Regions from separate parts of the Homo sapiens genome. Here region 2 is linked to region 1. A link means that fine-mapping ties the variant in region 1 to the expression of a gene that starts in the linked region. Tissue or cell type: whole blood. Region 1 holds a variant in brackets; the other region holds the start of a gene. All regions are shown on one strand. Distances are from middle to middle. Region 1 overlaps DNAJB6 (DnaJ heat shock protein family (Hsp40) member B6). Region 2 holds the start of DNAJB6 (DnaJ heat shock protein family (Hsp40) member B6).

Region 1 (2,902 bases):
CCCACAACTGCAGTCCCTGCCACACCGTCCACAGCCCCCCTGCCTCCCACCCACCAGCACCTCACTGCCTTCCCCACCCCCCGCAGGGCCCCCCAGTGCTTGGGACGTCACAAAGGTGACGACGACAGGTGCCGCGCTCCCCCTTGCCATCATCTCAGCAGCTGCCGAGCACACCCAGGGGCCGGGCTCCCTCTCCACCCCCTCAGCAGACGCTGGCATAAGCAGCCGCGGGCTCTATCTGCAGCATCCACCCCCTCAGCAGACGCTGGCATAAGCAGCCGCGGGCTCTATCTGCAGCACAGAGCTCCTGGACCCGCCCTAGGGGGATGGGGCGCTGGGCGCAGGGGTCGGGTAGACCCCAATACCCCTCCTCACCTGAGAAGCAGATGCCTACCTGCTGGCCATGCACCTGCCGGGCCCCATGGACACCAGCTCCCTTCTCCTCCTGGGGTCGGGGTCTCTCCCTCTCAGCGAAGGGAGGACCCACCTGTGACATGAGCTGACTCGGTAGCCAGGCCGTGTGAAGACGGGGCTCTGGCCCCTTTGCCAAGAGCCTGTCTTGTGTGTGGCCTGGCTTGTCTGGAAGGCGCTCGCGGCTCTGTCCACGCTCCCTAGCTGTGCCCCTGCTGAGGCAGCCCGGCCACGCTCCTGGGACGGCCTGAGGGTCAAGTGGGCAGGGTTGAGGGCACAACAGTCACCTCTAAACCTGTCGAACCACCTGCCTCCCTCGCCACAATCTCAGCAGCAGATTCTGGGATCTGAGCAGTTGAGAAGGACTAATCTTGTTTTAAAAACACCCCCGACCCCGGCCCGCAAGGCGACTTACTGCACCGCCTTCCCCTGTCACCAGGAAGGCCGGACGCCAGGATGTCAGCACTGAGCGCGTGTCTGGCCCAGTCTTGGTCGCCAGCAGAGCCAGGGTGAGTCGACGAGGTTTTCCTCTCGGGACCCTCAATGCCTCCTGTGAAGGCTGCGGGAGTTTCCACCTCATCTGTGCGTTGGGGTGTTACTTTTTTGTTGTTGTTGTTGTTTTGAGATAGAGTCTCGCTCTCTCTAGAGTGCCGTGACGCAATCTGGACTCATTGAAAGCTCTGCCTCCCGGGTTCACGCCATTCTCCTGCCTCAGCCTCCCAAGGAGCTGGGACTACAGGCACCCGCCACCACGCCCGGCTAATTTTTTGTATTTTTTAGTAGAGACGGGGTTTCACCGTGTTAGCCAGGATGGTCTGGATCTCCTGACCTCGTGATCCACCCGCCTCGGCCTCCCAAAGTGCTGGGATTACAGGCGTGAGCCACCGTGCCCGGCCTTTTTTTTTTGAGACGGAGTCTCGTTCTGTCTCCCGGCTAGAGTGCAGTGGTGCGATCTTGGCTCACTGCAAGCTCCGCCTCCCTCGTTCAAGAAATTCTCGTGCCTCAGCCTCCCGAATAGCTGGGATTGTAGGCGTGTGCCACCACACCCGGCTAATTTTTTGTATTTTTAGTAGAGATGGGGTTTCACCATGTTGGCCAGGCTAGTCTTGAACTCCTGATCTCAGGTGATCTGCCCACCTTGGCCTCCCACAGTGCTGGGATTACAGGCGTGAGCCACTTTGCCCAGCCGGGGGTGTTAGCTTTAAAGTCATGTTTTCGCCTTACAGTGACGCATTTCGGAAGCAAGGCTTCTGCCTGCAAAACACCACTTTCATCCTT[T/C]GTAATCGTAATGTTGAAGAATTGCTTTTATTTCTAGTCAGTCTTAACGGTGCAACTTACTGGCGCTTACAAAGGACAGCAGGCGAGCTGTATTCAATATGCTTATGTTTTATTTATGTAGGTGGCATTTAAAATACATGATGTGTTTAGGGTTACATTGTCCACAGAAAGCATCAAATACCACTCCTCTCCCCGCCAAAACCAAATAAACAAAGCCAACTCTTTGGCAACAGTTGTGTTAAATAAAATCCCAGGTCACACTTGTTTCTGGCTCCCAAGCCTGGGTCACTGCTACATGGATTGCGCCAAAAAATTCCCAGCTTCAACACTGCTAGATTAAAATTGCTGGCATTTTTAAATCACAGCAAAGCTTTTCACAATGCCCTCAAGTCCAAGAGGACAAAGGAGAAAGCAACATGAACGGCAGATCCTCATGTGAAAGGGAAGGAAAGTCACTGGGAGGGAGCATGCAGGGAAGAAGTCAAGGCAGCCCTGGAATTCTACTCCGTGCTCAATAAAAACAAAACGTGAAGAAGCAATACATCATGCAAACGAAATAATGACCGGAAGTGGGCGCATCTAGTTAGAATGAAGTGACTTTCGTAAGGAGTCAATGTTCGCGAACTGAAACATGAGTTCAACCTCCTTGTGCCGTCTCTGGGTGTTTTGCGCGTGTGTAAATACCGGCCCGTTTTCCCCAGCATGGCCCTAACCCATGGACACTAGGGAGAGTGCCACTGAGCAAAAATTTTTTGCTAAAAATAATTAGCAAAAATCCAAGAAAAAAATATGGAATCTAGCAAAACCTACACCATATTTGAAGTTGAATTTGCACTACCTGCAAAGGATGAAAATTAAAAGAGTAAACAGAAGGAATGATTTTACATCTGATGTGATTCACGACAGCCTTCTATTCGTGTGGCCGGATTGCTCTGAGGAAAAGGTGCCCTGACGGGCAGGATTCAATGTGTCACTTGCAATATTCTCTAAGTTACACTCTACTGAATTACCTTCTAATTCCAAACACTACGCCGCCACAGAAAGCCTCATTTCATGAATGTTACTCAGTTAGCCATCTGCGCCCTCCTGTACTTCTAAAGCCAGAAATATTCCAGCAGCATGCGGAGTGGTTGAGTAGCCGAAAAGAATGAAGAGGATCCGGAAGCACTAGAGGAAAATGCAGCAGATTGAGAGCTGGAGAGAAGCAGAGAGT
Region 2 (2,902 bases), 81 kb after region 1:
ACAGACTCCGTCTCAGGAAAAAAAAAAAAAGGAAGTCTGGAGTAAACCCAGAGAGAACGCGGGACGGGTGGACTGGCGGAGGAGTAAGGCGGCTGCATATAATTCCTTTCAGAAATCATGAATCGTTCTGATACGCAACACTATTTGGAAAAGTGCGGTTAAACACGAAGCAGCAGCAATCAAGCTTTAATGGTTAACGTCTGTTTCCTTTCTTCGGTCTTCACTCTAACTTTTCTACTAAATCAATAATTTGGCTTAAATTGTAGCGACAAATCCTTACTAAAATTCGCAACTCAATAAAAACGTTGAAAACTACAAAGAGCGCCGCTCAGCCTACTCTTCCCAAACAGGCTGAAGCCTCCGAGCTCGCAGGCGGCACCCCTTCGGTGGTGGCACGATCGTTCTACTTGCGCTGTTTCCTGCCCCGTTTACGTGAGAAGTTAGCACAGAAGTTTACGTCTGACTAGCAAACCCATCCTTTAAAAAATTCGCTAGTGCCAAAACCTTTCTCGAGCCAATATATGATTTGCAGTTTACACTGCGTGTGTCACTGACCTTCCTTAGGTAAGAGTTAATGTAAACTTCTTATATAAACTTCAGTTGCATCAACTACGGTGCAGATTCTTTAACGCAAAGCAAAGCAGACAAACATTCTGAGTGAGAAAGGCAGCCTGCTCTTCCACAAACTTCTGAACAATCCGTCCGGAGTTCTAGAAACAGGGCTTTGCGGTCCCCCACCTGCTTCTTCTCCCTCCGAACTTGGCGGCACGGCTGCGGCATTCCTGCTCCGCAAGCCACTCCCGTTTCTGGTTTCAGACGCGAGTGCGGGAGCCTTAGAAAAAGAAGGCGCTCCACGCCTCCCACGCTGCCGGCCCCGCCGAGCCCCAGCCGAGCCCCAGCCGGCCGCTCCCAGGCCGGGCCCCACCCCCAACCGCCGCCGCGGAGGCTGGGCCGCGTTCCGGCAAGGACGCCGGGCGGGGAGGACGCGGCCGGGCGGCCCCAGACCCCAGCCCCGGCCCCGGCCCCAGACCTGACCCAGAGGACCCCGCCCACCCTTCGCCCCGCAACCCCGGCCACGGCCCCCGCCCCGTCCAGTCCTTTCCCCGGCCGGCGACCCCGGTCACCCCCCGCGCTGTTGCCAGGCGCCGGGTGAGGTCCGCCGTCTGCCGGGCGCGCGCGGGGCCCTAGGCGACCTCCCCCGACCCTCGGAACAGACCCTCACCGAGGACAGAAGCGGCCGGTGGCGGGACGCAGGGGAGGCAGGGTGACGGCCCGAATCTCCTCACAGCTCCAGGACTGCTGCGCTGGTGGTGGCGGCGGCTCCTCGCGCTTTCCTTTCTCTCCTTTCTCCAACAACAAACAGGAAATGCGTCACGCGGCGGCGGCACGGCGGCGTCAACTTCCGCCCGACCCTGACGCCGCGCATGCGCAGTTTCCACTGCCCATACCGCGGGCCCAACCTCGGGGGCGCCCGCCCCACCTTCGCGAAGGTTCTCGGCTCTTCCGCCGCCCCGAAGAGCCCAGGAGACTGGGGGCGAGGGGGCGGGGAAGCCCAGGGCGAGGGGGCGGAGCTCGGGGCCGGGTCTACGGTACCGGGGAGCCCAGACGCGCGGAAGGCACAGAGAAGGCCGAGAAGATTCCAAATGGCACTTATTGTTGGGCCAGAAGGAGCCCATTCTGGAAACCGCGAAGTCGTCGCGCCCTTCATCTTCCTCTTGACCGGCGGCCCCCGGAGCGCGTCTGCCGCCTCTCGCTCCGCGGTCCTGCGGTGGAGCTGGGTGGCATCTCCGCACAGCGGGACGAAAGCTGGGGCGCGGGCGCGGGCGCGGGCGGAGAAGTCCCCGAAGGAGAAGAAGAACAAACCAAGCGGCGGCCAGCGAAGGCGGGCGAAGGCGCCGGCCCCCGCTTGTCAATTTAGGGAAGCCCGGATACCCTAAGTTCCCCGGCGAACGGGAGCGCGTGGAGACTTCGCCAGGGAATAGTGACTGAAGGAAACGGAAGCAAACTGTGGCAGAAAATACAGATGAAGCTTTTTAGGTTAAATCGTGGCAGTAGTTTTTCTGAAAACGCGGCGCATTTTGATAGCTGGACTTTAGGTCATCCCCAGGCTTCCTAGCCTTTCCCGCGTCCTCAGGGGTTCTGGTTCTAACCCTGGAGACCAACACCACATGCGTGTAGATGGTGACCAGCAGGAGCAGGGAGTCTCAGACCCAGTGCAGTCAGACAGGCTCCCATTCCCAGTAGCGAAAGGGTCCCGCAGACCCAAAGCCTAAGGAGCCAACAAGCAGTTCGTCCATGGAGCCTGGCCTGGATCTCCCACTGTCTTCCTCTCCAGCATTCAGCCAGATGTTTGCTACTGTGTTGTCTTAGTCCTGGCCCACCTTATCCTTTCCTTTAAGAAATAAAAATCTCAACTGGGTGCGGTGGCTCACGCCTGTAATCCCAACACTTTGGGAGGCCAAGGCGGGCGGATCACCTGAGGTTGGGAGTTCGAGACCAGCCTGACACATGGAGAAACCCCGTCTCTACTAAAAATGCAAAAAAAATTAGCCAGGTGTGGTGGTGCATGCCTGTAATCCCATCTACTGCAGAGGCTGAGGCAGAATAATCGCTTGAACCCAGGAGGAGGAGGTTGCAGTGAGCGGAGATCACACCATTGCACTCCAGCCTGGGCAACAAGAGCGAAACTCTGTCTCAAGAAAAAAGAAAAATCCCTTTTTGTTACACCTTTCCTGAACTTCAGATCCTGTGGCATGCTGACACTGAATTCCGGGGGCCTGCTCAGCCACCTTCTGAACTAACAACGCTTATGAATTCGTGATCGTTTAAGCCTGGGAGATATTCAAGTAAAAGGCACTTTAACACTTGAATCACTTTTGGTTTAAAATAGCTCGTTAGTAAT

Evidence for each region. PIP is the estimated chance that this variant, and not a neighbour inherited with it, causes the effect.
Region 2: DNAJB6 starts here. The variant in region 1 is fine-mapped to the expression of DNAJB6 in whole blood (TOPMed, PIP 0.98).

The regions. Positions count from the first base shown.
Region 1 is chr7:157,416,315-157,419,216 of GRCh38, reverse strand. DNAJB6 (DnaJ heat shock protein family (Hsp40) member B6) reads right to left here. Exons shown (of 10, transcript NM_058246.4): 10 at 1,778-2,902. Among named protein-coding and RNA genes, the nearest start is that of DNAJB6, 81 kb to the right of the region's middle. The variant T/C (reference allele first, on the strand shown) is at 1,690.
Region 2 is chr7:157,335,465-157,338,366 of GRCh38, reverse strand. DNAJB6 (DnaJ heat shock protein family (Hsp40) member B6) reads right to left here and starts at 1,363. Exons shown (of 10, transcript NM_058246.4): 1 at 1,223-1,363. RefSeq lists enhancers at 131-180, 909-1,412, 1,413-1,915 and silencers at 841-1,030, 1,091-1,300, 1,491-1,650.